2 linked regions of the Homo sapiens genome follow. The protein of the gene in region 1 interacts with the protein of each later gene in a pairwise test. Each region holds a gene or a part of one and is shown on either strand. Other genes may lie near its edges. The genes, in order: TLR5 and RNF216.

Region 1 (3,820 bases):
ATGTGTTCTGGTCAGGATCTTTGATGTTATGGAAGCCAAACCCGGCACCCATGATGTGGTGGGCAAGAATCAAAGAGAAGGCCTGGCTTTTGCTGATGGCATTGCTAAAGTTTCCTGTGATGTCCACTGTCCAGCCATTTCCAGAAACATCTAGTATCTCCAGCACCATGTTTCTGAATGGGTTCATACATTTTCCCCAGTCCACTGAGACTCTGCTATACAAGCTATTAGCTGCGAGGCTAAAAAAGGAGAGCGTTTTCCCTTGTAGGGGCTCGAGCTCATGTTCACATACAAGGAATATTTGGTTGGAGGAAAAATCTATGGACTTTAAGGAATTCAACTTCCCAAATGAAGGATGAAGGTAAAGGCTACGAATCTGATTTTTGGATAGATCCAAGCGAGTTAAAGCCTTTAAATTTCTGAAATAACCATCTTTCAATACAGCATCAGAGAGACCACAGAAATACAGTCTAAGTTCAAACAGATGGAACAGTCCCTGAAAAGCATCTGGATGCAAGAAGTATATCTTACTACTTCCCAGGTCCAAGATTCTAAGGTTGGGCAGGTTTCTGAAGGCCTCCTTGTCAATAGTCAAGGGGGTATACTGGCTCCCGAGCTCCAGCAGCTGCAGCTGTTCCAGAAAGGGGAAGGATGAAGCAGTGACTGTCCTGATATAGTTGAAGCTCAGCAGGAGCCTCTCAGTGGTGTTGAGGACCTGGGGGACCTGGGTGAGGTTGCAGAAACGATAAAAGGCTATTCGGCCATCAAAGGAGCAGGAAGGAATTCCAAACACAGGACCGGCCATGAGCACCACTCCTAGGAGAAGGTCCAGGTGGTCTCCCATGATCCTATGGAGAAGAAGGGAGAATGAAAACACAGGCATTTAAGCTCGAGGTATTGCACTGGGGTCTTCAGATCTTGGGGGTATTCTCTATGATGTGCCTGCTCCCTTTGACCCCTTCATTCCTCTGACTCCACAGACGTGGCTGTTGGCAGATACAGACAAAACTATTCTTACTCTATTTCTGTTTTTTTTGAGACAGGGTCTTGCTCTGTTGCCCAGGCTGGAGTGCAGTGGCATGATCACAGCTCACTGCCACCTCCGCCTCCCGGGTTCAAGCCATCCTTCCATCTCAGCCTCCTGATTAGCTGGAACTACAGGCACGTGCCACTGTACCCGGCTAATTTTTGTATTTTTAGTAGAAATGGGGTTTCACCATGTTGCCCAGGCTGGTCTCCAACTTGTGGGCTCAAGTGACCTGCCTGCCTCAACCTCCCAAAGTGTTGGGATTACAGATGTGAGTCACCACACCTGGCCTATTCTTGCTCTCTATCAAACACTTACGTTGAATTTTCTGTATACTAGGCACTATTCTAGGTACTTAAAAAACATTTCACTTAATCTTTTCTTTTAAAAAAATTTTATTTATTATTCTAAATTAAAATAAAAATATAGAGATGGGGGTCTCGCTTTGTTGCCCATGCTGGTCTTCAACTCCTGAGCTCAAGCGATCCTCCTACCTTGGCCTCCCAACATGCTGGGATTACAGGCATGAGCCACTGCACCCTGCCTTCACTTAATCCTTATAATAACTCTATGTTTCTTCATTCATTCGTTTGTTTATTCATTCATGATTTGCTGAGGGGAGGTGGAGAAAACAGCAGGAAGAGACACAATGTTGCTTCACTTCAGCCGGGTACCCCGTTCCTAGCCCACAGAAAGCTCGGCTGATGAGTGGAAAATAAATTCACTGTTTTTCTCCCTTAATTTGTCTAGGCTACTGGCCCATCTCCATTTATCCGACCTTACTCCACACACAGTCCATCCCATCATGCAGAAATTGGGCACTTTCTGGCACCCCACAAAGAGCCAGATGTGATCGGTTTAATAAAAGTGTGATAAGTGCCTAGTGCTCGCCTGGCAGCTGTGTGATTGTGTGAGTGTACGACAATAAACAGAGACTGGCCCACTTGCTTAAGTCCTGTCGGGGAGCTAACCATCTGTCTGGGTTGAGTGTTTTTTTCATGGGTGCAGCAGAAATGGTGCTCAATGAACGTGTCTGGCTTATGTTCCAAGTATTGTGCTGGGTGCTATGAAGAGAAAACACACAAGGACCCCACCTGCAGAGAGCTTGGTGTCTATTATTTGCACAGCACCTCCATCTTTGGTGCCTACTATGCATTCCATTTGCTTTAAATGTAATGAAAGGCCTCTGTTGGAAGGTAAAGGAAGAGTTATATAGCTCAGAGGGCAGGAGAATGAGAGGAAAAATAAATGAAAGAAATAGGAAGAAGGCAATGGTTTATAAAGAGCATGAATCCCATGAGACACCATCACTGGCAAAAGTGTCAACACCAGGAGAGATTAAGCCTGGAGCAGTCACGGTGCTGGAGGTGGGCTAGCTCTGACGAGGTTGTGCTTTGTGCTGGGGCTGATGTATGGTGGGGTTTCCACAGAAACTGGGAGGCTGTGGCACACAAGCTACAGCAAATCAGAAGTAGGCATGGATGCCTGGATTGACTCAAAGTTTCAAACTCAGGCATCTAATAATCGTTAGGAAAAACTTGGTGAGAATGTTTATCACCACTCTGAATTTCTCCCCCATCTCAGTAAATGGCTTCACCATATCCATCCAGAGTCTCAGGGTGACAACACAGCAGAGTCTTTTAAACATCATTCTTTTAAACATCCCCCCAATATCCAATCCCTCAGCAAGTCCTGTTGGTGCCACCTCCCAAGCCTATCCACTGCCCTACTGTAAGCCGCCGCCATCTCTTTGCATGGGCCAGACTGGAGACTCCTCACTGGCTCTCTTATTTCTGGTCTTGCTTTCATTTTCCAGCCAGCAGCCAGCATGTTCTTTCAAAAACATAATCTGGTTTATATCATTCCTCTTTGTACAGGGCCCTTCCCTTCCTTCCTGCTGTACTTGGAATAAAATCCTGTGAGTACTTACATGATTCAGCTCTTGGCTGTCTTGTCAACATTATCTTGAATAGTTTTTCTCCTCAATAACTCATTAAAAAAATTTGCTGAGCACCCATTATGTGTCAGGCACTGTTTTATTTATTATTTATTTGAGACAGGGTCTCACACTGTCACCCAGGCTGGAGTGCAGCGGTGCTATCTCAGCTCACTGCAACCTCCGCCTCCCGGGTTCAAGTGATCCTCCCACCTCAGCCTCCTGAGTAGCTTGGATTAGAAATGTGTGCCAGCACGCCCAGCTAATTTTTGTATTTTTAGTAGAGATGGGGTTTCACCATGTTGGCCCAGGACGGTCTTGAACTCCTGACCTCAAGTGATCCACCGGCCTTGGCCTCTCAAAGTGCTGGGATTACAAACATGAGCCAGCACACCAAGCCTCAGGCATTGTTTTAGGAGCTGGAGATACAGCTGTGAGCAAAATGGACCAAGCCTGCCCTCATGGAGCTTACATTCTGGTGGACGGAAGAGGTGATAACAAAAGGAAGAGGAAATAGGTACTGACAGGCAGAGGTAAATGCAATGGAAGAAAGTAAAGTGGGAAAAAGGAGATGGGGGTGCCATGGCTCGGGTGGTGGCTGCTGTTTATAGAGAGGAGTCAGGAAGGGTGTCTCTGATGTAATGAGATTAGAGCAGGTGTCTAACAGAAGTAAGGAAAGGATGTGGAGAGGCCCAACGTTTGAGGGAAAGGAGCAGCCAGCACCAAGGTCCTAGGGTGGAAGTACCAGCCATCCTGGAATACACACATGGTACGCATTCCAAACTCTTTCCAGCCTCAGGACCTTCGCAAGTGCTGCTTCCTTCATGTGAACCCTCTTCTCTCTGCTCTTACTGTGG
Region 2 (3,820 bases), on another chromosome or scaffold:
CTGATCTGCCAGCCTCGGCCTCCCGAGGTGCCGGGATTGCAGATGGAGTCTCGTTCACTCAGTGCTCAGTGTTGCCCAGGCTGCAGTGCAGTGGCGCGATCTCGGCTCGCTACAACCTCCACCTCCCAGCCGCCTGCCTTGGCCTCCCAAAGTGCCGAGATTTCAGCCTCTGCCCGGCCGCCACCCCGTCTGGGAAGTGAGGAGCGTCTCTGCCTGGCCGCCCATCGTCTGGGATATGAGGAGCCCCTCTGCCCGGCTGCCCAGTCTGGGAAGTGAGGAGCGCCTCTTCCCGGCCACCATCCCTTCTAGGAAGTGAGGAGCGTCTCTGCCGGGCCACCCATCATCTGAGACGTGGGGAGCGCCTCTGCCCCGCCGCCCCATCTGGGATGTGAGGAGCGCCTCTGCCAGGCTGCGACCCCATCTGGGAGGTGAGCAGCGTCTCTGCCCGGCCGCCCCGTCTGAGAAGTGAGGAGCCCCTCCGCCCCGCAGCCACCCCATCTGAGAAGTGAGGAGCCCCTCCGCCCGGCAGCCGCCCCGTCCGGGAAGTGAGGAGCCCCTCCGCCCGGCAGCCGCCCCGTCCGGGAGGTGGGGAGCACCTCTGCCCGGCTGCCCCTTCTGGGAAGTGAGGAGCCCCTCTGCCCGGCCGCCACCCCGTCTGGGAGGTGTTCCCAACAGCTTATTGAGAACGGGCCATGATGACGATGACAGCTGTGTCGAATAGAAAAGGGGGAAATGTGGGGAAAAGATAGAGAAATCAGATTGTTGCTGTGTCTGTGTAGAAAGAAGTAGACATAGGAGACTCCATTTTGTTCTGTACTAAGAAAAATTCTTCCGCCTTGGGATGCTGTTGATCTATTACCTTACCCCCAACCCAGTGCTCTCTGAAACATGTGCTGTGTCCACTCAGGGTTAAATGGAATAAGGGCGGTGCAAGATGTGCTGTGTTAAACACATGCTTGAAGGCAGCATGCTTGTTAAGAGTCATCACCACTCCCTAATCTCAAGTACCCAGGGACACAAACACTGCGGAAGACCCCAGGGTCCTCTGCCTAGGAAAACCAGAGACCTTTGTTCACTTGTTTATCTGCTGACCTTCCCTCCACTATTGTCCTGTGACCCTGCCTAATCCCCCTCTGCGAGAAACAACCAAGAATGATCAATTAAAAATAATAATAATAATAATAATAATAAATAAATAAATATAAATCTGATGACAGTGGTTGCCTCTGTACAGAGGTGGGATCAGACAAGGCCACTAATGGCTCCAACAGTGTCATTGTACAAATTAGAAAAAAGTACCTACATTGGGCTAAGCACCTGGAAAGGGGCCCTTCCTTCTCAGCCTTGGCAGGGAAGAAACTCACCTGCAACCTTGACTGAGAACTACAGTATAAGATAGGAACTTTGGGGAAAGGTGTTTAGTGAACTATTTTGTTTAAATTTACCACCAGGCTGAGCACGGTGGCTTATGGCTGTAATCCCAGCACTTTGAGAGGTGGAGGTGAGCAGATCATGAGGTCAGGGTTTCAAGACCAGCCTGACCAACATGATGAAACCCTGTCTCTACTAAAAATACAAAAATTAGCCGGACAGGGTGGAGTACGCCTGTAATGCCAGCTACTCAGGAGACTGAGCAGGAGAACTGCTTGAACCTGGGAGGTGGAGACTGCTGTTTAAGCCAAGATCGCACCACTGCACTCTAGCCTGGGCAACAGAATAAGACTGTCTCCAAAAAAAAAAAAAAAAAAAAAAAAAAAAAATTACAATTATTTCACCTCTGCAGATTAGAAGGAGGGGAAAGAGTATATTTTTCATTTTATATTCTTCAGGAAAACTTATTTTTTAAAAAAGCATATTTACCACTTATAAAAAATTTTTTTAAAATAAGAGACAAGGTCCCACTCTGGCTCCCAGGCTGGAGTGCAGTAGCGTAACACAGCTCACTGCAGCCTTGAATTCCTGGACTCAGGCAATCCTCTTGCCTCAGCCTCCCAAAGTGCCAGAATTAAAGGTGTGAACCATATGTCTGGCCCGTATTTATCCCTTTTATAATGAAAATTAAGAAATATGGCTGGGAGCGGTGGCTCACACCTGTAATCCCAGCACTTTGGGAGGCCGAGGCGGGTGGATCACGAGGTCAGGAGATCGAGACCATCCTGGCTAACATGGTGAAACCCCATCTCTACTAAAAATACACAAAATTAGCCAGGCGTGCTGGCAGGCGCCTGTAGTCCCAGCTACTCGGGAGGCTGAGGCAGGAGAATGGCCTGAACCTGGGAGGCGGAGCTTGCAGTGAGCCGAGATCGCACCACTGGACTCCAGTCTGGGAGACAGAGTGAGACTCCGTCTCAAAAAAAAAAAAAAAAAAAAAAAAATGCTTCCATGTATTTCTCCAAACAGAGTGGTTGCAGAACATTTTGTTACAATCGTAGGGAAGAAAATGTCTTAACATCTTGACTAAAACACAGGTAGTATCAACGCTTAGAAACAACTCAGTTATCATAATTCTATAACCATGCAGTATTCCATAAAATCCAGAAAACAGTCTGTGTATCACTAATGTCAGAACGAACAAGGTCATTAAAAAAGACATAATGCCAAGTGAAATAAGCCAGTCAGAAAAGAACAAACACATGAGGTCCCTGATAGTAGCCAAATCCATATAGAAAGAAAGTAGGATGGTGGGTGCCACTGGCTTGGGAAGGGGATGGGGAGTGAGTGTTTAATGCGGACAGAGTTTCAGTTTGAGAAGATGAAAGAGTTCTGAAGATGGATGGTGGTGATAGTTGCATAATAATGTGAATTTACTTAACAACACCAAATTGTATATTTAAAAATGATTAAAATGGTAAATTTTTTATTACATATATTTTACCACCACCACCACCACCACAAAAAAAGCATGGTAGTATACTTACACATTCAGATCATAATAATTCTTAAAATGAATTATTTCCTCAATAAACCCATTTGCTACATCTGGAAATCTTGCTTCCTAGAAACAAATAAGAACATAATTTATATTTCATTCACTAGAATGGTTTCAAATGGCAATACAAGACAGATGGCAAAAAGTATAATAAAATGACTAAAGACTAGAAAAGGGCTGTGAAGCAGGTCTGTGTGTGTCTTCAAATTCAACACTAGTTCCCAGATTCATCTGTCTACATAGAAGATGAGGTCTAGAAAGGTCTTGAGAGATCTGGTTCTCTGTCCCCATTTTACAGATCCATTCTTCATTGCTTCAACAAATATTGAGCATCTCTGTCTAGACAAAGGGAATCCAAACACAAATAAGTTACAATCTCATGCCAGCCCTCAAGCAGCACACAACCTAGTGCCTAGATAAAAACACCTGGGTGGCCGGGTGCAGTGGCTCATGCCTATAATCGAAGCACTTTGGGAGGTCGAGGCAGGCGGATCACCTGAGGTCAGGAGTTCAAAACCAGCCTGGCCAACATGGTGAAACCCCGTCTCTACTAAAAAAATACAAAAATTAGCCAGACGTGGTGGTATGTGCCTGTGATCCCAGCTACTCGGGAGGCAGAGACAGAAGAATCGCTTGAACCCAGGAGGCGGAGGTTGCAGTGAGCTGAGATCGCACCACTGTACCCCAGCCTGGGTGACAGAGTGAGACTCGGTCTCAAAAAAAAAACAAACCAAAAACAAAACAAAAAAAACCCGCCTGGGTAAAGTAGGGTTAACGGACTTGTTTGAAGGCAAATAGTGGCTACCAGATGTAACACCTTTTTTTTTTTTTTTTTTTTTTTTTTTTTTTTTTTTTTGTGAGATAGAGTCTCACTCTGTCGCCCAGGCTGGA

What was found.
Region 2: the proteins of TLR5 (region 1) and RNF216 interact in a two-hybrid assay, tested with the Homo sapiens proteins (one study listed by BioGRID).

What each region holds. Positions count from the first base shown.
Region 1 is NC_000001.11:223,112,188-223,116,007, forward strand, and holds part of TLR5 (toll-like receptor 5 precursor), read right to left. Parts: intron 849-3,820; 5' UTR 845-848; coding exon 1-844. UniProt on the Homo sapiens protein: Pattern recognition receptor (PRR) located on the cell surface that participates in the activation of innate immunity and inflammatory response.
Region 2 is NC_000007.14:5,736,358-5,740,177, forward strand, and holds part of RNF216 (E3 ubiquitin-protein ligase RNF216), read right to left. Parts: intron 2,996-3,820; coding exon 2,919-2,995; intron 1-2,918.